Linked DNA regions of Homo sapiens: region 2 is linked to region 1. The links come from fine-mapping of genetic effects on plasma protein levels. Region 1 holds a variant in brackets. A gene starts in the other region. All regions are shown on their reverse strands.

Evidence for each region. PIP is the posterior inclusion probability: the model's chance that the variant is causal. Protein levels are from antibody-based Olink assays in UK Biobank. Linkage for the fine-mapping came from a reference panel and not from the study's own genotypes, which makes the PIPs less certain.
Region 2: it holds the start of ANGPT1, and the variant in region 1 is fine-mapped to the plasma level of the ANGPT1 protein (UK Biobank, PIP 0.91).

The regions. Positions count from the first base shown.
Region 1 is chr2:224,003,707-224,015,906 of GRCh38, reverse strand. The region is part of intron 1 of SERPINE2 (serpin family E member 2); the gene reads left to right. LOC124907990 (a long non-coding RNA gene) reads right to left here and starts at 7,030. Exons shown (of 2, transcript XR_007088102.1): 1 at 6,750-7,030. RefSeq lists enhancers at 320-819, 5,910-6,485, 5,410-6,609. The variant C/T (reference allele first, on the strand shown) is at 5,750.
Region 2 is chr8:107,491,271-107,503,470 of GRCh38, reverse strand. It overlaps ANGPT1 (angiopoietin 1), which reads left to right and starts at 5,553. Exons shown (of 9, transcript NM_001146.5): 1 at 5,553-6,209. The coding sequence starts at 5,913. RefSeq lists a silencer at 1,854-2,054.

The DNA.
Region 1 (12,200 bases):
AGATACTAGTCCCTTGACAGATACGTGATTGGAGAATATTTTCTCCTAGTCTCTTCATCATCTTTGCAGGATCTTTTGCAGAGTAAAACTTTTCATTTTGATGAGGTCCAATTGATCAGTTTTTCAGTTTATCAGTTTTTCGTTTTATGAAACTCAGGCTTTTAATGTCAACTTAGGGTTTTGATTCCTGCCTGTTGTCATGCGCAGTGCCGGGTGGTGAGAAAGAGAGCCATGGAACAAGATAGACACTGGAGTGTGAATGATTCTTCCAGTTTCTGTCCGGTTGGGTTCTGCAGTATGTCTTGATGAGCTGCCTATTTGTTGGAGTCATGGACACAGAGTTGCCCTTGTCTTGCAAAGGCTGTAAGGTGATGATGGTATGAAAGGAAAAATATTTCCAGAATAATCCATGGTACCTCCCAACACAAGGTTTGTTTGCACTTGAGAGCTTCTGTCTGGAATACTCTTCCTTGCTTCCATCTCTCCGCCCCTTTGTCCAGTCACTTCCAGTCCATCCTCCAATGTCTGCCCATGTGGCCCTTCCCAGGAGCACTTCCCTGGCCACTGCCTCTCACCCTGGCCCAGGTGTGCCTCTGCTTCCATTCTTACACACTCTCCTCGATGTCAGAGCATTTGTAAAGTAAATACGTGAAAATGAAAGTAAATATCAAGTAATAAGACGATTTGATTAAGGTCTGTTTCCCCTCTAGACCAGGCTTCCCCAACCTTGGCACTACTGACATTTCGCTGGATAATTCTTTGTTGCAGGCGGCTGTCTTGTGCATTGTGGGTGCTGCTCAGCAGCACCCCTGGCCTCCCCCCACCTAGCAGATGCCACGGCACCACCCTCCCTGGCCCCCACCTACCAGATGCCATGGCACCACCCTCCCTGGCCCCCACCTAGTGGTGAAAACCAAAAAAAATGTCTTCAGATAGTGCCAAATGCTCCCTGAGCGACAGAGTCACCCAGGTGGAGAACCATGCCTTGAGACTCTGAGAGGTGGGAGGGCAGGTACCAAGCCCCTTTTCATGCCTATTCTCTCTCTAGCATCCCAGCGCCAGGCCTGGCACTGTGGTGCTTCATTAATATTTGTAGGATAAATTAAGGGATAAACCAACTTAATAGGGGACACTTGTTTACACGGCAGCCTTGGAAATGCTACCCTGACTTCAAAGGAACAAAGTGGGTTTTGTTGGGCACTTGAGACCCAGGAGAATCTAGAGTCTTCTGTATTCAGGTGGATATGGGTTTCCTTATGCAGTACCCAAGACAGCCCCCACACTGAAGAGTTATGTCAGTAGTGCCGAGATAAAGAAAGCCTGCTCTAGGGCACAAGAGAACACACATTCCCACTCTCGCCCCAGGCGCCACACAATGATCCCTCTGACTTTCCCTCTGACTTTCCTTAGTTTAGAATCAGAGTCTCCGTCTGAAGTCCTAGACTGTTTCTCATCAATGCAATGACTGCATTGATACCAATTTACCTAGTGGTTCTCCCTGGAATTTTTCTTTTTTTCTTTTTCTTTTTTTTTGAGACAGTGTCTTGATTGTTGCTCAGGCTGGAGTGCAGTGGCATGATCTTGGCTCACTTCAACCTCTGCCTCCTCGGTTCTAGTGATTCCCCTGCCTCAGCCTCTTGAGCAGCTGGGATAACAGGTGTGCGCCACCATGCCTGGCTAATTTTTGTATTTTTAGTAGAGATGGGGTTTCACTGTGTTAGCCAGGATGGTCTCGATCTCCTGACCTCAAGTGACCTACCCACCTTGGCTTCCCAAAGGGCTAGGATTACAGGCATGAGCCACCTCGCATGGCCACTCCCTGGAATTTTCAAGCCAAGGCTTCTCTATTTGGGAGAGGAAGGAATGAGGCCAGTTACTTTTGTGTATCCTAGAAGGGAAAGGATGTGGTACTGGTAATTGAAGCTTTGGCCTGCCAGCCCACCTTATCCAATTTGTCAGCCCAGGTTCATCTACATCCTGTTGAGAAGTTTGGCAGCTGGAGGTGGACATGCACACACTACACTGAACCTCCTGCAACAAGCACTGCGGAAGGTGTGAACCCCAGGCTGAGTGACTGGGCAGCTGTTCCTCTGCAGGAATAGAGGAGCCCCAGCCTCCTGACACGGTGCACCTCCTGAAACCCACAAAGCAGCAGTAGGGAACCGTGGATGACATTACCAGTCCTCCCCACCTACCGCCTGGTCACTCCTTACAGGCTGCCTTTTTCTTCCTAAGCCAAAGCCAGCTCTATCATTCAGGTTCAGGAAACAGAACAGCCAGCCACTGAGAGAAAAACCTAAAACATTCATATATAATCTAAATTATTCTTACAACCACTGTTCTTACTCCCTGGGAGCTTTCTAAACCAATTTTATCCAGTTACCTGCTTAGCTAAGCAAAACGGAGCCCAAACCCCTGCTTCCCTCCTCTTCCTCGTGAAAAGGGAGCAGGACCCAGCTAGAGGGAAAGTGCAAGTGAACACTGCATTAGGTCTCCAAACCGCCCTGTGCAAGTCACCCCAGAAAGGCCACCTGAAGGAGGGCCTGTCCTGTCTGCTGGGAGGCCCTCTTTTTCTCACAAGGAGAGTCCATGCCTTATGGATAAACAGAGATGCCTTTTCTAGGCTGTGAGAGCACCACTTTGGCAGTGTTCATGGAGGATATGGGGTTTTATCAGGCAGGAACTCAGCAGCTCCCACGTTCCTATTTCAGTGAGCCGGGGAGAAAGGCAAGGAAACCCAACATATATTGAGTTACTACTATATACCAGGTACTATGCTAAACACAGAGAATAAAAAAATTAAGTCATAATCCCCACCATTAAATATCTAATATGTAGATTTGGCCACATACATAGGTCAAATCATGTTCACCAAAATAACACCACCATTTACTGAAAAAACTCAACATGAAATGGTCTGTGGGTTGTAATGGGGTGTAACATTCATCTTAGTGTATATAAAAAGATTCCACTTTATTATTTCTCAACTCTTTCTCCTTTTCCAGTAAATACCATTTTTATTAAAGTTTTATGATCCTTTGGTTTAGCCACTGTTGTGCTCCATAACCTTCTCTGCTCCCCTTTAGAACACATTTCAGCTATTCCAGAGTCTCAGTTCCTGATAAAAGGAAAAGGGATGCTTGTTATAAGTGGTGATTTCATTACAGAAATTTTGAAGGCTACATAACGGTATACAGAATAATAAATATTCATATTCCCACCATCAGAAATAACTATATAGATATTTTAATATCTGTCCTGTTAGTCTTTTTTTGTGCCTGTGTATAATTTTTTTTTTTTTTTTGGGATGGAGTCTCGCTCTGTCGCCCAGACTGGAGTGCAGTGGTGGGATCTCGGCTCACTGCAAGCTCTGCCTCCTGGGTTCACGCCATTCTCCTGCCTCAGCCTCCCAAGTAGCTGGCACTACAAGCACCCGCCACCACACCTGGCTAATTTGTGCCTGTGTATAATTTTTACATAGTTAATTATACCATACTTTTTTCCAGTTAAGATATATCCAGAATGTATTACCATGTCTTTAAGTTTTCTTCAGAGATAGGTTCTTAACAGCCAAAGGATATTGTGTTGGATGGATGTCATTAACTGTTCCTTATTGTTGGACATTTTAGGTTATGTTCTCCCAGAAGCAATCCCTGAGCCAAGCATAAAGTGCAAGTGATTCATTAGGAAGTGCTCCCAGTTGAAATAGTAAGGGAAGGGGAGAAGTGGGAATTAGAAAGGGAAGAAACCAAGCAAGAAATACCAGGTGAAGTCCCACACTCAGAGCTCATGGGGAGCTCTGGAGAGTCAGTTAACAAGCAGACCAGTAGTCAATGGCTGTTAGTCCTCAGGGAGGGAGTGGTGTTTGTGAACTCTCAACCACTTAGGGCCAACCAAGAAAGTGGCCTTCAACTCCCACTAGTAATTGACCGAGGTAACAGGTATAAACCATTAGCAACAAAGCAGATAAAAACTAGGAGATAAGTGCACAAAGCTGGTAAAAGGTCACCCACAGTGTCCCCTCCATTGGAGATTTAATTTGCAATTATAATTGCTATTGCAATTATTTATTGCAGAGAATATTGCAATACTTTTGCTACTGAAAATAATAGTAAACATTTTTGGACCTGAATCTTTTTTATTATCACATTAGGATTGATTGATAGAAGGGGTATTACTGTTCCAATAGATAGATACATTATTAAGATTATTTATGCGTACTAGGGATTGCCTTTAAAAAAGATTTTTAAAAAATCAATTTACATTTCTAACACTTGACACTCATTTTTTAATTGGCAAGAATCCAGAGAGTGTTAGTTTCTCGTCTCTGAATTGGAGGCCCATAGGCATATCAGGGTTATTCTAAAGGATCAGAGAAATCATGTTCATGGCCCAGTTTTGATTATAGATTGATAAATAATATCTCAAAATATGATTTCTTAAAATGTATCTAGGTACTGATAAAAAGAATTTGGATTTTATTGACATGTTTAAGAATTCATGGTTGTATTTTATGTATTTTTACCAATACTAAAAACATGGTCATGAACTATGTGTAATATTTTTTATGTCTAAAAAAGGTACTTCCATGTCTCTTGCTGAAGAGAGAAATTAAAAAGGTACTTCCTTGTTTTTAAAGATTGAGAACCATTGGTCAATGTCACTATAATGTCTTGGGTCACCTCTTGGTTGCTGGATTAGGAAATCAGCCATTTGGACCATTACGTCTTAAAGACATATCAAAAAGAAAAGTCTATAGGACTTGATACATAGGTAAACCAGATTTAATGATCTGAGTCAGCAGACCGAAAAACATATCTCAGCACTATTAAAGGTTTTCTGGGACATACTCACCCCTCCCCCTCCATTCCCACAGTAATGGACCCCTCAGTTCTCTTACAGAGACGGCAAAACGCACCAGCATTGTCTTAATTTATTTCTGAGTCTTAAATAGTCTAAGGAAGTTATAAAGATACAGACAAGGCTTTATCAAGGTAGCAGTGTTTGACTGTTTTCTTAGCTTGATCCTTGAGACTTTCTAAATGGTTGCTGAAATACAAATCAGAGTATTTCAGGTCTTGAGCATTGAAGAGGACCAGAAGAAGAGAGCCAGCATTTACTGAACACTTGCTCTGAGCCAGGTATTAGGCTGGTTACTATGTCTTTCAGTTTGCACCTATTGAATTTCCATGGCCACCCTTGAGATATGATTTCTAATATGGCAGAGGACAAAGCTAAGACGGATGAAGATTGTGACTTGCCTTGGATCTCTTGGTTAATGGGTAGTAGGATTGGAATTTGAACTTTAGGTGAATTTTCCCGGAAACTTAGAGGAAAATAGAATGAATATCCTGTAATCTTGAATTTTAAAAGACAGACTGCTAACAAAGCTCTAATCCCCTCCTTCCCCCTAGCCTTTTCCCATCAACCCAAAGAGATTTCAGAATGGATAATATATGGATAAAAGGCACTTGATGTCAGAGTGTACTTTATAATAAAATATGTGTCTTTTCATTGAAGGGACCATTTGGATGTTGCTGCCATACTTTTCAGCGGCTGAAAAGGTATTTCCTAAACATTTTTAGGTTCCTTTTTGGCCAAATTAATTAGTGTCATAGAATGAGCATACACTTTGAAGGCAGACAAAAATTTAAGAAAAAATTCAGATGTCTCTAAGTCTTTCTCCACTAACCTGAAAAACACATTTTAAAACTACCAAGCTGCTGTCCCCTTGATAAGTTGGCATTTC[C/T]TGTTTGTTCTCTAAATTTTAAAGATGCTGAGTCATTTTGCTAGTACTTAGTACACTTCCCAAGGATAACCAAGATGTACTTTAGTTTGCTTGTTCACCTGATTTGGTATCATAAGAAAATGTGGTAGATGTTTGGAAAATGAATACAGGTCTTGGTGGACATTATTTCAGTAATGCTTATACAGATTTGAGAGACAGAGACCATATGTGAGGCTTAACCCCGATTACTTGTACATTAACAATTACTGTCATCTTACAGAGACAGCCTTAATCTCCATGGCTCACCTCCTGAAGAGTTTCTAGAATGCCTCTTGCCAAACACCGTTGAGTGTTGGCAAAGTACTGATGAGAAATGTTTGGTCTGAATGCTGGACAGCACGATTTTACTTAAGGCCATTCAGAAGTCTCAGTTTGGCAGCCACAAACCTTGCCTGTACATTTGTTTTGTTGTTGTTTTTTTTTTGAGACAGAGTCTCACTCTGTCACCTGGGCTGGAGTGCAGTAGCACAATCTCGGCTCACTGCAGCCTCCACCTCCTGGGTTCAAGCGATTCCCACACCTCAGCCTCTGGAGTAGCTGGGATTATAGGCATGTGCTACCACACCCAGCTGATTTTTGTATTTCTAATAGAGACAGGGTTAAGCCATGTTGGCCAGGCTGGTTTCGAACTCCTGGCCTCAAGCACTCTGCCCACCTCGGCCTTCCAAAGTGCTGGGGTTACGGGCTTGAGCCACCGTGCCCGGCCTGTACATTTATTTCTTTGGGAAGCCCTGGCAGGAAAAGCTGTTGAGAGATGTCATGATTCGGACAAAACATACCTGCTGTTTTTCTCTACCTGCTGTAGCCCCTGTAGATTAATAAGGGGCCTTAGGTTCCAAGAACCAGGATCCTAGCAACACAGAGACTAGAAGGATGGCGAGACTTTCCCAGTGCCTGAGAAGGTGTCAGCTTTCACTGAGGGGCGGGGAGGGGAGAGGCTGAGATAAATCCGGGGACTCACCTTGCCGTGCTGTGTGTCGGTTGTTTGTCGCTGGCATCTGCACTGTTAGGATTCCATTTTTAGGCTGGGCTTGATTCAGGAGGCTCGCTGCTGTCACACGAGGGCAATCCACTTTGATTCTCCCAGCCCAGCTTTTAATGCCCAGCAGACTCCTTTATCTTGTCATCATCCAGCGAGCCTCCCTCGGTCTAGATGGCCATGGGAGGCAAACCCGTTCAGTGTCAGCAGCTGGTCTTTCATAATTTGATTTTCCAGTGATGTTTGAGCCATCGGTGTGAAACAGTCACCAGTCTGGCTCTCATAATTTGAATTTCAGTATTTGGATATATTCCAGAGAGTGGTGTAAATGGACTTTGGATTTTCCTTATCACTGTTGCTCAGCATTTCCACAGTTTAAAACATTTAGGGTTTATTAGATAAGGGTGCTCAGTGCTACTGTTTCTCACTAAAAGGAACCAGAGCTCCCTGGAGAAGTGGCTGATTCCATCTGGAACAGAAGATGTATAAAATGAGCCTAAACATCTAGTCAAACCGGAAAGCAAGGAGGCTAACAAGACTGTAGGGTTGTATCAGAAGGTTTAAGAACGAGTGTGAAGAGGCTCATTTTGAGCACCAATAAGAATAAATTTGCAGTGGATCGAGACCCTTAAAGTATGTTGAAAAACACGAGTTTATAGTGATACAGAAAATAGAACCCTCTGGTCAATCAACCTATTTTGAATTATTTTGAAAACTGTTGGATATGGGAAATGAATGAAGAATTTGTCCTGCCCTTGTAACACAAAATAAACCTCAGGGCAACCAAGTAGTTGATTATGGAAAACTTCTTTTTATATAAATATTCTAATTAATAAGTGAGGGAGGAAAGTTAGAATTATAACAGCACCCACATTTGGTAACTCTTAATAAAACAGTGCACTTAGGCGGTCATCATAAGTAGCTTGCTAACACCACAAAAAGAGACAGTCAGCTACCGTCTACTGATTTCACCACCCTCTACGGCACCTCTACAAAATATTCTTACAAAAAGAGAAAATTGACTTGAATCTGATCAGTCCCTACAGCTGGGGTCAGCAGGCTTTTCACGTAGAGGGCCACATAATAACTGTTTTTGGCTTTGCAGGCTATACCGTCTCTCTTGCAGCCGGGCACCTCTGCTCAGCTCCCTATCATAGCACAGATGCAGCCATAAACAAAGAAAAAAGCGTGGCCAGATCTGGCCCATGGGCCGTAGCTTGCAGACCCCTGCTCTAGCTCTAACAGTTTACAGGAAGGACAGAAGACAGAGAAACTTGTTGAACAGCATGACATTAATGCAGTTAGCAAAATCTACCCTGGGGAAACTCTACAGGGCAAATAACCTGTTTTTTTCAACAGAAAAAATTCCAAGGTTAAAAATGAAGCAACTAGTGGAAGATGAAACAAACAAACAACCAAAAAAACAAAGGCAAGAGGTGTAACCAGTTGCAATGTATGGAGCTTACTTAGATCGTAATTCAAATATACTATAAAAAATGCGAACATGGACTAGATATTTGACATGTTAAGGAGTTATTTTGCGGTGTGATAATGATGTCATGGATATCTATTTTAAATCCTTAGGCTGAGTCTATATGTTGAAATTATTTTGAATGATATTATATGATGTCTGCAGTTAACTCCAAAATCATCTTTGATTTGAGTAGAAATAAACCAAGCCGTGAGTTAATAATTGTTTTTTCTGGATGTTGAGTATGGGGGGGAGTATTAAATATTTGCATATGTTTGATATTTCCCATGATATAATGTTTTTAAAAATATATGTATGTTTTATAAAACATGATCACTTTAAACCTTTTATAGAGAATGAGAGAGCATGGAGAACTTTTCCTTCATTAGACGCTTCTGTGTCCTCCCAAAATAGGTGTGCACCATCCAGCTATGAATGGACCCAGAAGAGTCTTTCCAGTGGTTTTTCCCACCAAGCTGTCTGCCTACAACTTACTTATTATGCTACATAGAGCAGACTAGTGTCATATTATTTATCATTTGTTCATGCACTATATGTAAACTTTTATTTCATAAAAAGAATTTATTAGGTAGAAAATGAGCTTCATGTTTTGTGTCTGGCTATCCTAGTTGCCACTGTTCAGTTGTTCAGCACTGGTTCCAGGCTAAGGGGTCTCGTCACAGGTGCTCACACAGCCTGGAGAGGTGATGGCAGTGGCGGCCATGGCAGGGTGTGAGGCAGCAGGGAGCAGCGGGAGCGAGGCACGCTGGAAAGTGGGTGCCCAGCCCATAAGGGGTGGCGTCTGTGCAGAACATTTGCCATGGGGGTGAGGGTCCAGTAGTACTAGAACGTCCACTCTTTTTCATTTTTCCTGAGAATAACCCTAATCTAGACTTGTGACATTTTTTGACTTTTAGTTGCTAAAAATATTTTTAGAATACTCTGTATTGCACATCAAACACTTGCTGGATTAGTCCCACGGGTCAACCTCTGATTTTGTGTCTACCAATGAATGGTAAGGCCCTAAACTGACCCTGTGGGCACCAGGAGTCTACAGTCCCTGCTTTCCGTGAGCTTCCAGTCTACTTGCGAGGAAAGAAAACATACTTGGAAAACAACTAAAATGAGACAGGCAAATAGGAAATGCTATAGGAATTCAAAGAAGAGAATAAAGAACCTCATCTTTAACAATCAGGAAAAACATCACACACACCGTGGAAGGAGTTGGGTAGAAGTGTCACTGTTGCTAGGTGGAGGCTAAGGGAGAGAAGCAGAGGCTCGGGCTTGGGTAAGCAAGCTCTTTCAACAGAAACTATGATTCTTGAAAAAGAGAAGAGTTGGTAGATTTTTGGAGACTAGTACCCCTCCCCACCAGTGGATAATTTTTCTGAACGATCAAGTGAAAACAGGTAGCAAACTGTTGAAAGTATAGCACTGCAATTCAGCAGAGAGTTTGAGGATTTGAGCTGCATATTTGAGCATCACCTGTGTAGAAGAGATGGTTGACGCCATTGGGTCTATAGAGAGTGGGTTCCTCTAATGTCTGCTATTGGCAAGCAGTCTATTTATAAATGTTAGGGTTATATTTTGAGTCTGGCATTTGCAAAACTACCATCCCATTATTTACTACGTTAAATCATGGTTAAAACTCAAAGCAGTACCCAGCTATTTCATAAACATTCCCCGTATTGGAAAGGAGAAAGGTTTGAAGTAAGAGAAACTAGAAGAACATAGGGAAGGAGATACCTGGCATTTGGAAGGATATGCCTGTGGCGATGGCTCTACTGATGGGCTTATGATCTTCCCTCCAATGATGGCCTAGAGACCTATTTTTACTGTTGTGAAACAATATTCAAGCAAATGATAATCTTCCATCTTGTTGCTATGCAGTACATTTGGGCAGCACTCTTATTTCTCTCTGATTTGAAAGTTTAAAGTGTAATTTCTCTTAAAAAGGAAAATAAACAGGAGGTTTCTATGTACTTCCCATTATGGCATCTGCTTGTTCCAGAGATCAAGCATTTCAAAGCTTGAGAACTCCAAGTTACTTCATGTAAACGATTGTCTATTTGGACATGAGTGTGTTTCATTGTTAGGAATTATGCAGGCCTAAAGTAATTTATAGATCAACACCCACTCTCCTGGCTACTGAACTTTGGAGAAAAATGAAAGCTTATTCTTAGACACGTATATAAGCCAGGTGAGTTTAGACGAGTGAGCATTTGGCCTAGGAAACCAAGGCCAAGGAGAAGTTCTGCCCAGCACATCAATCAAAAATAGCTCTGATTCCAAGTTCTGCACAGCTCTAACACTGTCCCAGTGCACTTTTATGAAACTGTACATAGACAGCTCTCAAAAACTTCCCAAGTCCAAGAAACCCAGAAAAACACCCATAACAGCTTTCTTCCGTGTCATAGGAAAACTGTTCTTTTAGCGAAAATTTATAATGAAGCAGAATTCTGCTAAATAAGATGGCTGTTTATTTGGGAGACTGTCCTTGTGACTTTAAGACATTGGAGCTGTTAGATTTCTCACTGTCACTGATCCTTTCACCCTGTTTTTACAATGTTTTATATATATATATATATATATATATATATATAATATATATAAAATATATAAAATATATTTATATATTATATAATATAATATATAATACTACATATATATAATATATATGTAGTATTTGAGTCTATCAACTTTAAGCTACCAGAGGCAAAACCAGTTTAATGTTCATGTCTTCTGAATCCAAATTCTAATATTTATTCAAATATTCACTAATCTAGGAGCATTTCTTTGGGGAGGCTTCAGGAGTACAGATTATAGTGGGCCGAATGTAGACACCAGAATAGACTATAATGCAAGAGACAACAATTGAGATGGATGAAGTTGGTCACTGCATTTGGCCATTTGTAAGAAAGATTGTACACAATGTTTTATACTTATGATGACTTTGTGCTATATTAAATTTTAAAGAGGATATTTATTGCTCAAAAGAAAGAAAAGGCAAGAGGGAGGAAGGAAGGGGAGAACACAGTTTCTAGTTTTTAGATGGAATGAATAAAGCTTCCACGGTCATGATTTGGACGCTCTCCAAAGTCCAGTAGGCTCCAGGAAACTCCAGGGATTGTCGTGGCATTAGAGCCAGTCCTAGGTGCCAAAGTCAAAATAGGCCACGCTGGCCCGTTGAGCCCAAGCGGGAGCAGCGTATGTAGGTCACTTACATGTTTTGAATTTAGACGGGCTGAGTTGATACAATTGTTTTACAATGAAGCTCTGGAGAAACACGGAACATTCTAAATCTTTAGAAAAGCGCTTGTTTCACAACATATAAGAAACTTGCAACATCAGCTGGAAGGATGGCCTCAGTGGTTCACAGTGGGGCCCTCTGTGTCGGGGGGCCAGGCAGGGAGTTCTGCGTGTGCCCACAGTCCTTGCTCGATGTGATGGTGGCTCTTCCCTCAGAGAGTGTCTTGAGCTGACCGTGAGGATCAGGATTAAACACAAGCGTTTTCTTAGCCACACTCCATAAACGCTGTTGTGATGCAGGGAAAGATTAATTAATAAAAATAGGAAGTATTTATGAGCCATCGGATTAATCTCACAAGTGTTTATTGAACATCTCCTACGCCCTAGGGTGGGAAGCACAGAAAGTGTGTAGAAAGGAAGGCAAGGAGACACCAAATACGGGGCCAGTTTTGCCTAACACTGTGGTTGTGCCCATGCTTTCCCCCAGAGCACACAGAGACATGATTTCCCCCTCCCTCCAGGTCACCTGTCTCTTAAAAGGCCCCCTTCTGTTTTATTCTCTGCAGTCACCCCTAACCTCCCACACGTAACAACAGAGTGGGACACATTGGCTCCACGGGAGACTGTGCTTAGCAGGAGCTTGGGCCTCTTGGGGAAGAACTGAATTAGCAACATCACGAATGCTGCTTTTGTTTTACCAGCTGCCACTGTTA
Region 2 (12,200 bases), not on the chromosome of region 1:
AAGACCAATTCTTCAATTCCTCTTATTCACCTTTAAGAAGTCATTTGCCCCAAAGTATATATTTTACTGAAACAGATAAGACAAATTTGATCTCACTGGAAACATTATTTCACTCCAAATCTCCTTACTTGATATATCTTCCCAAGTCTCTCATGGCCACACAGCCACAAGCCTCCTCTCTCTTTCAGCAGCTCTGCCTGACACAGAATCTCTAAACCTCTCTAGCTCCAGTCCTCCACTTCTAGATCTTTTCCTGAGTCTCTTAATCCCTTCTCTCCTTTCTTAGGTAGAGCAAATTAATTCAGTCTCAGCGGTTTCCACCTTGTATATCTATAGTTTAAAACCAACTTAACAGGCTGAGCCTGGTGGCTTACGCCTGTAATCCCAGCAGTTGGGGAGGCCGAGGCTGGTGGTTTGCTTGAGTCCAGGAATTCGAGACCAGCCTGGGGAACATGGTGAAACTCCATCTCTACAAAATAATACAAAAATTAGCCGGGTACGATGGTGCATGCCTGTAGTCCCAGCTACTAGGGAGGCTGAGGTGGAAGGATCACTTGAGCCTCAGAGGCAGAGGCTACAGTGAGCTGAGATCATGCCACCGCACTCCAGCCTGGGTGACAAAGCGAGACCCTGTCTCAAAAATAAAATTAAATTAAACCTACTTAACAAACAAGATACCTAACAATTACCAGAAATTTCTGTCATCAAAAGACAGAGGAATATTTATATGATAATTTTTATTTTCCTCACTTATCTATATGCCTCCAGTCCTCATCCCACTTGCTGCAGTGTTTCCAGCTTTTTGTAGCATCCTCCCAGTTATTCTGGGAGTTCTAAATGGATATTTTGCATGTACTCATGAAGTGCCTTCAGTTACCAGATGATATCCTCCATCTTCTTCTGTTTTTGGTTTTGTCCCCTGTGATATTTCCAACTGTTGTGGATACCTTTGCTGCCTACATAGTTGAGTGAAGGTGTCTTGGCTCTGCTTCCAGGAGCTACAGCCAAGTGCCCTCCCTCCTTTTAGATAGAGCTGCCACTTCTATAGGCCTGATGATAGTCTTGATCCCTAAAAGTGCCTGAGCAGAGTCACAGAATATGGCACCCTTGGTGTGGTGAATCACATTGTGTTCAGAACACAAAGTAGGAGAATACTTTCCCACCCCTTTTTCCCCTATAAGTGGTTGTATAAATACCAGAGGACTATTTCCTTGAATCTCATTGCCTGGTGGTATTTTTGAGAAATAAATACTATTTTTTTTCATATATTTTGATTTTATTGTAGAGCAGGAGTGATGATCAAGATATCTAACAGATGACATGGCATAGGACCAACCATTTAGAATATTTCTAAAGTATAATCCGATTAATCAGATTGGCTGTTGGTAAGCATATCTTACCATACTGGTGCATCCTGATTTAATATTATCCCTGTTTTGGAAGATCATAACATGAATCTGTGAAAGCCCTGGGTTTCAGAGGAAAGGGACCTCTGAAGGGGGAAGTCACCATGTTGTTCTTGTTCCCTAAATTATAAGAAATATTTTCTCAATACTGAAGTATTGTCATAAACAATATAGCTCAGTGGGAAATGAATGTGAGCCTCACAGTTAGATGGATTGAGGATCAAATTCCTGTTCTGCCTCCTAAGAGATCATAGATCCTGGGCGATTAATCTCTATGGCTCCACATTTCTCATCAGCAAAATGGGAATAATAATATATAATATTACATAATTATGGGGGTTCTGTAAACATTAGATGAGAAAATTATTTGTTAAGTGTTAAAAAATACTATGAATTATTATTGTACTTTGCTCTTGCGTCTAACTCATTCTTTAGAATAAGTTTGGCTTTATCCTCAGTTCTTCATGCCTAGGGATTCTAGGCAAACTCACCCAACAAATGCAATGAATGTGGCCAGTCATGTAGTAACCAGATAGAGAGTCAGGAAGTTGCATCAACTGAGTCATTAATCAGCTCATTCATTTATTTGCTTATTCTTTCATTCCTTCAGACAAAGTGCATAGTGAATGTTGAGGAATCAATGATGACAAAGAGAAGATCACTTTAGCAGCTCACAGCAAAAGCAAGAGACAGATAAAAAAAAAGGCAACAATTAGCAAGCAACGTGAGCAGTGCAGTTTTGGAGACATGAGGAGAAGGTTATTGAAATTTAACACAGAGAGCATTTATTGGACCTGGAGAAATTAAGAAAGCTTTACCAAAGAATTATCAAAGACTGTTTCTTAGGATAGATTTAGGCACATTAAGTTCTGGTATAAATGGCTCTTGGTCCCTTTGGAAATTTCAGACTAAGTGGGACATTTACTAGGACTCTTTGTAAATATGAGATCAAAACCTTAAAGCCTACACTTCCTTATTCCAGATCTCTAATAAAACACAAAGCTTTTGGGTTCAAGCTACCACAGAATTCAATTGAACAGAATTGTTTAGTTCTTTATAAATATTTTATCCTTCATGGAGGTGTGGTAGATGAATTTTAATTGGCTTGTTCTTATTACTCGCTTATTATTATTATTATTATTTAGAAAGGGTCTCACTCTGTCATCCAGGCTGGAGTGCAGTGGCAATCATGGCTCACTGCAGCCTCAACCCCCTGGACTCAAGCGATTCTCTCACCTCAGCTTCCTGAGTAGCTGGGACCACAGGTCCTGGGCGTGCCACCACACCTGGCTAATTTTTATTTTATTTTATCTTGGGTAGAGACAGGGAGGGTCACCCTATGCTGCCCAGGCTGTACTCAAAATCCTAGTCTCCAACGATCCTCCCACTTCGGCCTCCCAAAGTGCTGGGATTACAGGCATGAGCCACTGAACCCAGCCCTACTCCCTAAATTTTAATGCATCCTGAATTCTGCCCCATTTCTGAATAATCAGCAACACACAACAGTGTTGCTGTTGCTTAGATGCATGATCCCAAAGACATATTATCTTTAGTGTGTCAGGATCCTTAAATGTACCTACAGTCTCCTTAACTGGAGTTCCAAAAACACCGGAGTCAATTCTGCACATCCTTGTGTTTTCTAATTACTTAAAATTCATCTTCAGACATTTTTTTTCAGAATGACACTAGTACTTCCAGTGTTATGGTTTAAGGTTGATTTTGTTTTTCTGCAAAAGAAATAAATCAGTCTCTACATTTTTCTCTGTCTCTTTGTCCCTCGACCCCTCCTTTTTTATTTGCATTTCAGGCTTCTCTTTCTTAGTGTCTACTTTTCCCTCAGGAAATTGTGCATTCCTGCTTTTCATTTATTCTAATTGCGAAAATTCACATGGATAAGGACACAGAGACGTACACAGACACACACGTGGAGGAACAGATTTTTAACAGTCTCGGCTATTTAAAAACACAGGAGCACTTTAATAGAAACCTCACCACTCATCCATTAGTCTTCTGCCAATTTTCTGCTGTATTTAGTTCTTCGCAAAACACTTCTAGGTGTCGGGTTTGGACTCTCTTCTTTCCATGGATAATTTTCAAATCAAGCATTATTGGAAAGTGTTCTTAGACAACCTGCATTTTGCCAGTGCACTTCATCTTTGTGGCTGTGCATAGGTTACCTGTCACTGTGTGTGTGCGTGTGTGCGTGTGTGCGTGTGCGCGCGCACGCGTGTGCTGGAAAAGGCCTGAATCACTTTGGAGAGATACTCTGGTTTTAACAGTGCTTTTTCTTCTAGGTACGTCACTTCTCCTGGTTTAGGACTGTAAATCAATGCAGCTGGAGCGCTTTTGAAATTGCTTTCATTCCTTGCAGAGATTTCCAAAAGCAGGCTGGCCTGGTGGTTTGAAACAGGCTCTGAGTCAGTTTGCCTGAGTTCACATACTGGCGCCATCACTTGCCAGCTCTGTGAATTACATCCTGTTAGCCTTTCTGTGACTCAGTCTTCCCATTGATAAAATGGGGTTAAACGGATGATATCCGTGATCTTAGGTTTGTTGGAATGATTAAGTGAGATAGTGTGTAAGGAGTGCTTCGCCTGGAAAACAGTAAGGTCTTAATGCATGCCATTATTATTGTTGCACAGGAGTGATACATGACTCAATGAGGAGACACGCAAAAGTTCAAGAGGCTGCAAAAGTGGTTCAAATATTTTATTGCTGTGTTTGGCATAACTTGCTTCCATATCTGTCCAATCAGAAATTTGTTATTTGGTGTGGAAAGGACTGATGAATCTCGGCAAGGTTTCTTTCCCCAAGTAAATCGCATTTGTTCTGGAATTTGTTTTGACCTCTCCTCTAACTTCTCCCTAAATGCCCATCTCTAACCACTACGGACCTTCACCCACTGCCCTGTTCTCCTTCCAAGACATGGGAGATGACAGCTGTGGCTTCTGTTTTCACACCATGACTGCAGTTGTCTAAAAGCCCTCCCAGTTCCTAATGAAAATCCCAACTCATAATTCAGGTTTTCTGCATCTAGTAAAGATCTCAAAGCCGTTCCCTAAATTCTACAATTATTGCCTGTTTATGTTTATGGGTCCCTTTGTTCAAATGTTTATACGCTGCCTGTGGGAAATCATCTTCTGATAATTTTTCTTTCTTCCTTCACAGAAGCACAGAGATGTCTCCTGTACAGCCCATTGCTGGCTGTTAGCACACCTGATATATGCTTGTTCTCACATAGTATGTCTGTGCAGCCACAGGAGGTTTTTATGTGGAACTTCCACACCAGTGTTAAAGACAGCCATAGCCACCAAAGAGATCCTTGTAAAATACAGGATTAGGATATACCACAGGAATTAATAATTCTCAAGCCACTGCTTTAAATTGTAGCCACATTGTTTTTGTAGGGAAGTTGCTCAATTTATATACACAGAACATGAAGGGTTGCATTCTGATCAGGACACCAGTTTCATTTAAGAACCCTATACCAAAAGGTACTTAGATAACCCTCTTTAATATGCACATACTATATTGCTTTGTGCAACATATTGCTTTGAGCAACAAATGATGCTAATTTTCTTGCTAATTTGATCCTCTCTGATTATTTTCTTCAACTCCTAAAAGTCTAAGTGAATACAATGAAAGAATACCATCTGTAAAAACTGTTTTTTAACATATTTTTCCTCAGAGTCAAGAATACATGTTTTTTAAAGACATTTAATAATGATATGGGTTTATCATTCTCTATCAAAAATAATTCCATTGGACATTATGCCAATTTTCTTCTTAGGGTCCCTCGACTAAATAGTAACTTTAAAAACATACTGCTAGTTTGCTATATTTTAGTAGGTCAGCATGCACACCAAAAGTGTATTAAGGTGGACTGCTCTATTTATTGATTTGCCATGAATCTGCTAAAGGCTCAAGGCAATTGTCTGTGGAAAGGGGCGGGAGGGCCATACATGATCGAGGTCATGCGCATCTAGCCAATTTGTAAGACGATCCCGCCGCCCTAAGCCATCAGCAATCCTTAGTATAGGGGCACACTCATGCATTCCTGTCAAGTCATCTTGTGAAAGGCTGCCTGCTTCCAGCTTGGCTTGGATGTGCAACCTTAATAAAACTCACTGAGGTCTGGGAGAAAATAGCAGATCTGCAGCAGATAGGGTAGAGGAAAGGGTCTAGAATATGTACACGCAGCTGACTCAGGCAGGCTCCATGCTGAACGGTCACACAGAGAGGAAACAATAAATCTCAGCTACTATGCAATAAATATCTCAAGTTTTAACGAAGAAAAACATCATTGCAGTGAAATAAAAAATTTTAAAATTTTAGAACAAAGCTAACAAATGGCTAGTTTTCTATGATTCTTCTTCAAACGCTTTCTTTGAGGGGGAAAGAGTCAAACAAACAAGCAGTTTTACCTGAAATAAAGAACTAGTTTTAGAGGTCAGAAGAAAGGAGCAAGTTTTGCGAGAGGCACGGAAGGAGTGTGCTGGCAGTACAATGACAGTTTTCCTTTCCTTTGCTTTCCTCGCTGCCATTCTGACTCACATAGGGTGCAGCAATCAGCGCCGAAGTCCAGAAAACAGTGGGAGAAGATATAACCGGATTCAACATGGGCAATGTGCCTACACTTTCATTCTTCCAGAACACGATGGCAACTGTCGTGAGAGTACGACAGACCAGTACAACACAAACGCTCTGCAGAGAGATGCTCCACACGTGGAACCGGATTTCTCTTCCCAGAAACTTCAACATCTGGAACATGTGATGGAAAATTATACTCAGTGGCTGCAAAAAGTAAGTGATTGCTTTCAGTTTCTAATAGCACGGACCTTTTTCCTTTCTTGCACTGCAGCTAACTTAAAGTTCCTTAGGGGAGCATTTGTGTATTTACCTTTTGCTCCAGGGGGGCAGTGTTTGCAATTGCAAGACGGCTGTCTGGGTTTGGCTTCCTGGGTAAGCCAAGGTTTGGGGGCTTGCCCAAACCTATGAATGTGTGGGGGCACCCCGTTTGTGTGTCTAGCCCTGGCAAATTTTATGACATTTTTGGTTTCTCTTTTCTAAAGTTCAGCATTAAGGTTCTCTCTGTCAAAACACTACCTTAAGAAAGAAAGTATGTACCTCTTAAGCAAGTTGGTGAAAAATAAATAATAATGACAATATTAATTAATAAGATCAAATCGATTTTGCACCAGAAAATTTTGTGCCGCTGGGGTGGCAAATCATCACAAAGTATTTGTTTTTTTAACCTTTATAAAAATTAACATGAAGTGAGAGTAAATATAAAATATGATATTTGGTTGGAGAAATTGTATATTTATGTAAAGGGAACTGTTAGTTTCAGCAAGTGGTAGAATAGTAGACTGATTTCTGTTAAATATTTTTTTCTTCTGTCCTTGAGAAAAAAAATTAAAAAGATACATTGTAATGTTAACTGTCGGAAAGGGGTTGCTCGCTCACGATGAGGGCATGCTGGCTGTTGAGGAAGACATGCACCTGCAGATATGGGCTGAACGCAGCATGTAGTCTACTATATTCCTGAAATACCTCCCTTCTCAGGGCATTGTAGTTAGAGACAGTACCTGGCGAGTTTAAGTATCCATGTTATTTGATGAATGTTAATGTTGAGTATGAATGTAATCTCAATTTATAGAAATCAAATCGAATAGTTTATCCAGTTATTTATCTACAAACCATTTAAGTTTTTGTTGAAGATAAGCCTATTAAATTATGAACACACTTCTGCAATTCATTCTGTCTTTGCACTCTGTTTAATAATAGGCAGCCGAGAATAAGTATATTCAACTGACTATGCTACTAGAAGGGAGGCAATGTCTCAATTTGTGAAAAGCTTCTCTCCCTTGTTAATGGATTCACTTGGTACATGTAGATAGGTATGCAATCAGGCTTCTTTAAGTTAGTCTGTTAACCGGGCAATCCCTTTAAAAAGATAAAAGATAGGGAAAGGACAAATGCTCTATTTTGTTCCTGTGTGGTCACACTCACTTAGGTCATTGCCTGCTGAATCATGCCAAGTAATAGTTATTCTACTTTTGTCCACTAGGGACTGAACTAAGATCACTGTTATTTTATTTGACACATTAACTGGAACTTAGTAGTTCTACAGTTTCCAAAGCTGATATTGTAATCTTTCTATTACAGACTATAGGACTGTAATAGGCAATCAGTAGGTAGGCAGAAGAATAAAAAGCAAACAGAACTCTCAGGTTTTTTACAATTGTAGCTGAAATTTTATGCATTACTTTCAGTAGTAGTTTATAATAGGATGTTTGTATTTTTCTTTGGTAAAATTTATTTCCATTGTAAACAAATGATTTTGGTTGAACAGCTTGTTATTATTCTTCAGTACACCATCCGTATAGTTTTTAGTGAGAATTCAATCATTACATATTAGTCTGGATTCTTTGAGGGAACGGGAAGGAAAATTTAGTCCCAAGTTATCCTGAATGATCTATTCTACCAAAAACGTAATGTTTTGTTTGCTTAAAGCGTATAATCACAATAGTGATTCAAACATAGTAATGCATATTTCTTGTTGCTATGCAATTATTCAGCAGTGACAGGGTAAACACATAATTCTGCTGGGCTTAAATCATGCACGTGTTTCATATGTTAATTTATTTTGCAAAATAAATTTGATTCTTGTTTGCATTGTTCTTGGTCAATGATTATGGGATAGCTTTCAGATTATAGCCAAGAATAACTATTAAAATGTTCTTTGGTTACATTCACCCTTTCAAGTGTAAAAATCAAGCTGAATATATGCTGAAAACGTCCCTATTGGTATGAGTCAGAGCAATGTGGCTTGACTATTGTCAGTTTAAATTTGCATATCTTTTGTCATTGTCAATGTGATTGGTTGGAGGATCAAGAAACCAAAAAATGCATTCAGCAAAGAACTTGCTAAAGGCTTTCATAAGTTTCCCTTAATTAGGAGTTTTCTTCACTCCAAGTTCTAAACTTCATGTGATATTTTTATTCTGATAATTGAAATGGAAATCTTTTTACTGTAACCATTTGGTATGCTCAGTACTGCAATTTGTATTACTTCTATTTTGATTCCAAGTAGTTGCCATAGGAAGAAGCAACACCCTGCAGAAACTGAGGCTATCAGTGTATGTAGGTGAAATTAATTTATCCATTTATTTGGCAAAATAATTAATCAAAGCATAGTGATTATTATGCAGCTCATGGCATCGCTATCAGGAAAGGTTTTGAGGCAGAATAGATGTGTTATCAACTCTAAATGAAGCTATATGATAATTATGTTAATCCATCACCTTCCATGAAGGGAAACCTCCTTCCTCAACTTTTCTGGTCTTGCAACTGAACAGGATGAGAAGCAAGGCATGCAAGGGGGCAAATGATTTGTGGGTCACCATAAATACTGGAACTGTTATGGCACTGCTTTCTTGATGTGATGGATTTAATTCAAAGAAATCAACTTTCCATAATCACTTGTCGATTAAAATGAGGTAGGTTGATAGCATTATTGTGACATCTCAGACCAGGAAGGGTGGTGTGAATAATATGCCTAACATCATAGTTTTATTTTGTGAAACACCTGGGTGTGTTTCTGGTTTGATCTCTTCTGTAATACAGCTCTTTTTGGAATTATTAGCAAGTCATAGTAAATACCTGAGAGTGACCAGCTCTTAGATAAGTAATGATAAATACAGCTGGCCTCTGTGTCTTTGTCACTTTCTTATGATCTCTCCCTACCTCTCTATGACAGTGAAACATTTAGCCCACATCCTGTACTTTGTGAACTATTGTTTTCTGTCTCCCACATCTCAAAAAGTTCACAAAGATGTACATTTAAAATATTTAGATTTAAATATGTATAATGTTCTAAGATTTGGGGAATCCTTAGAAGATCTGTTTTGCTTTTGCCAAATGATGTCTTTTTTTGTTAAAAGTTTAAATAAATTGAGTCAATAATGCCTTGTAACAGAAAACAATAGTCTATTTGCTATACATATTTTACACTAGCTAAAATTGATGACTATTAATGGAAAATATAGTTATGAATTGCCATCCAGAATATTTTAAGAAATACAAAGATTTTACTGGACTATTTAGCTGTTTTTCTATTGACAACATTTTTTGGTTAAGGATGTCCCCTATTTGCATATTGTATTCTTTTCTTCAGAGTTAAGATTTGAAATGCTATTACCCAAAACACATTGATGATGACGATTTTTTTAAACCCATATATTACATATATATTAATCCCTATTAATATCCATTAGAATGTGACCTCCATGAGGCCAGTGACCATGTGTGTTTGTCCAATGTCATAACCTCAGTTCCCAGAAGAGTATATAACATATTTATAACAGATATGCAATAAATATGTGTTAAATGAAAAAATGAATGCATTATCTATTGCATTCTGCACTTTACTGTCTACTGTCAGCATTTTATTCGAGGTATACACCTTACCTCTTCAATAGATTGTAAGTTGTCCTATAGGCAAGGACTATAACCTATGGTTATTTTTGTCCTAATACTAGTTAAAACAATATTGGGTCCAGAGTAGGTGGTTATTAATTATTCAAATTATATTTAACCAGTAATCTAGAATCTCAAAAACTTCTCTAGTCACTCCAATTCATCTTCTTAATTATTCTTTAAGGGTCAGCTCTGTTGCCAGTTTCTCCAGGAAATCTACCCACACTCCACTTACCCTCCCAGGCTGAGTTCTCAAATGTCATCACAGTACATTGACTGTATCATGTTAATGCTGTAGTTCAAAGTTGTTGTGGTGGTTGTTTTAATTGTTTGTTTCTAGGCTTGTTTTCCCACCTAGACTGTGAGTTCCTCAAGTGTAGTAAATGTCGCTTATCCATTTTTATACCTCTGAACATGTTCATTAAGGGTCTGGATTAATTTTTTGTTATTGTAATAATCAGTTTTTAAGAAATCAAGTGCTCAAGTGTATAGTGGTAACTATAAAATAGTGAAAATTAAGGGACCTTGTAACTACTTTAAGATGCTAAAGTCTGCTTAAATGTTAGCACTAGGCTACTTGAGGGTCAGCTAGATATTCCTTTGTACAATAATGTTTTGTACTTCTATAAGCACAAGAACTTAGTATTTCTTGTTCAGTACAGTAGGGAGCCATTTACTGCATACATCTGTATAATATGTATATATCTGTATACTATATGCACATGAGAACTTAATTATAATAATATGCATCTGTATAATATGTGCACATGAGAACTTAATTATATTAATATACATCTGTATAATATGTGCACATGAGAACTTAATTCTCACTGGTATATTATTGTTTTGGTGGCCGGTGGTGGCTGTGCAACAGTCAGAGAGAATGCTCTTATGTTTTATTTTCACATTTGTGGGAACTTCCTAAATGTGTGAAATGGGTACATATTGGCCGGGCGTGGTGGCTCACACCTGTAATCCCAGCACTTTGGGACGCCAAGGCGGGCAGATCACCTGAGGTGAAGAGTTCGAGACCAGCCTGGCCAACATGGCGAAACCCTGTCTCTACTAAAAATACAAAAACTTAGCTGGGCCTGGTGGTGTGTGCCTGTAATCCCAGCTACTAGGGAGGCTGAGGAAGGAGAATGGCTTGAACCCAGGAGGCGGAGGTTGCAGTGAGCTGATATCGCACCACTGCACTCCAGCCTGAATGACAGAGCGGGACTCCATCTCAAAAAAAATAAAGTAGATATTTAGTAAGTATGATTTTAATAATTTGTCACTAAACGTGAAAATAAGATACATGCACAATTTATGCCTAGAGATTGGGAAAAGTAACAGTTGCTGAGAAAGATTAATAGAAATAATGATCTTTTAAATCGAGTTGTAGAAATGTCCCCATCAACTTCATTTGAAGAATAGACCTCTGATTTTCAAGCCAAGTAAGAGCCCTTCAGAATCTGTATTAACTTTTCAACAAATAGTTCGGTATTATTGGTTGCTTGTTACATTTTAGAATCAAAAGATCCAAAAAAAACCCTTTCAGACCCAGAAGTTAGGCAGTTAGTGTTATAACAGCCTTTTGGTAAACTGTCTCCATTGAGAGAGCTCAGGTTTTAGGGCTATGACAAGTAGGTCCTTTTCTATGAGTTTCTATGGGCAATTACAGTTCTTCCTTACCCCTGACTGTACCATTTCACATTGAGCTTTCTTTTAATAGCACTCCTCTCATATAAAGGTATTGGCTTAATGTAATTTAAATGAATAAGAATGTCATTTCCCCCCTTAAAATCCTCCTACAACTTCTCATTACATAGGAATAAAATCTGAATTCTTACCAGGAGGTCTTATATGATCTGCCCCACACCTCTCACTGGCCCCATCATTTACTACCTTCAAACGACATTCCAGACACTCAAGTGACATTGGCCTTCTTGTTATTTCTCCAACAGACAGGCTCATTCCTGCCTCAGGGACTTTACAAGCTGTTTACTCAGCTCAGAAAATTCTTCCCCCTGATCTTTGCATGGTTGGCTACTTCTCTTCATTCAGGTCTTCACTCAGCAGTCTTCTCAGAAAGTCTCTGAGCACCATTACCTACCACCTTCCCCACTTTACTAAGAGACTTTCTACCTTATTATACTGTTTTATTTCTTCATGGTACTTGCTACTGCATAATGCTGTGTTACTTATTGTCTGTCAGATTATTTATTCTATCTCCGCCTACTAAGAATGCAAACTCCATTAGAGCAGCATCCTTGTCTATCTCGTTGATGCAGTATACCTTCTACCTAGAAGAGTGGATGACACATGGTA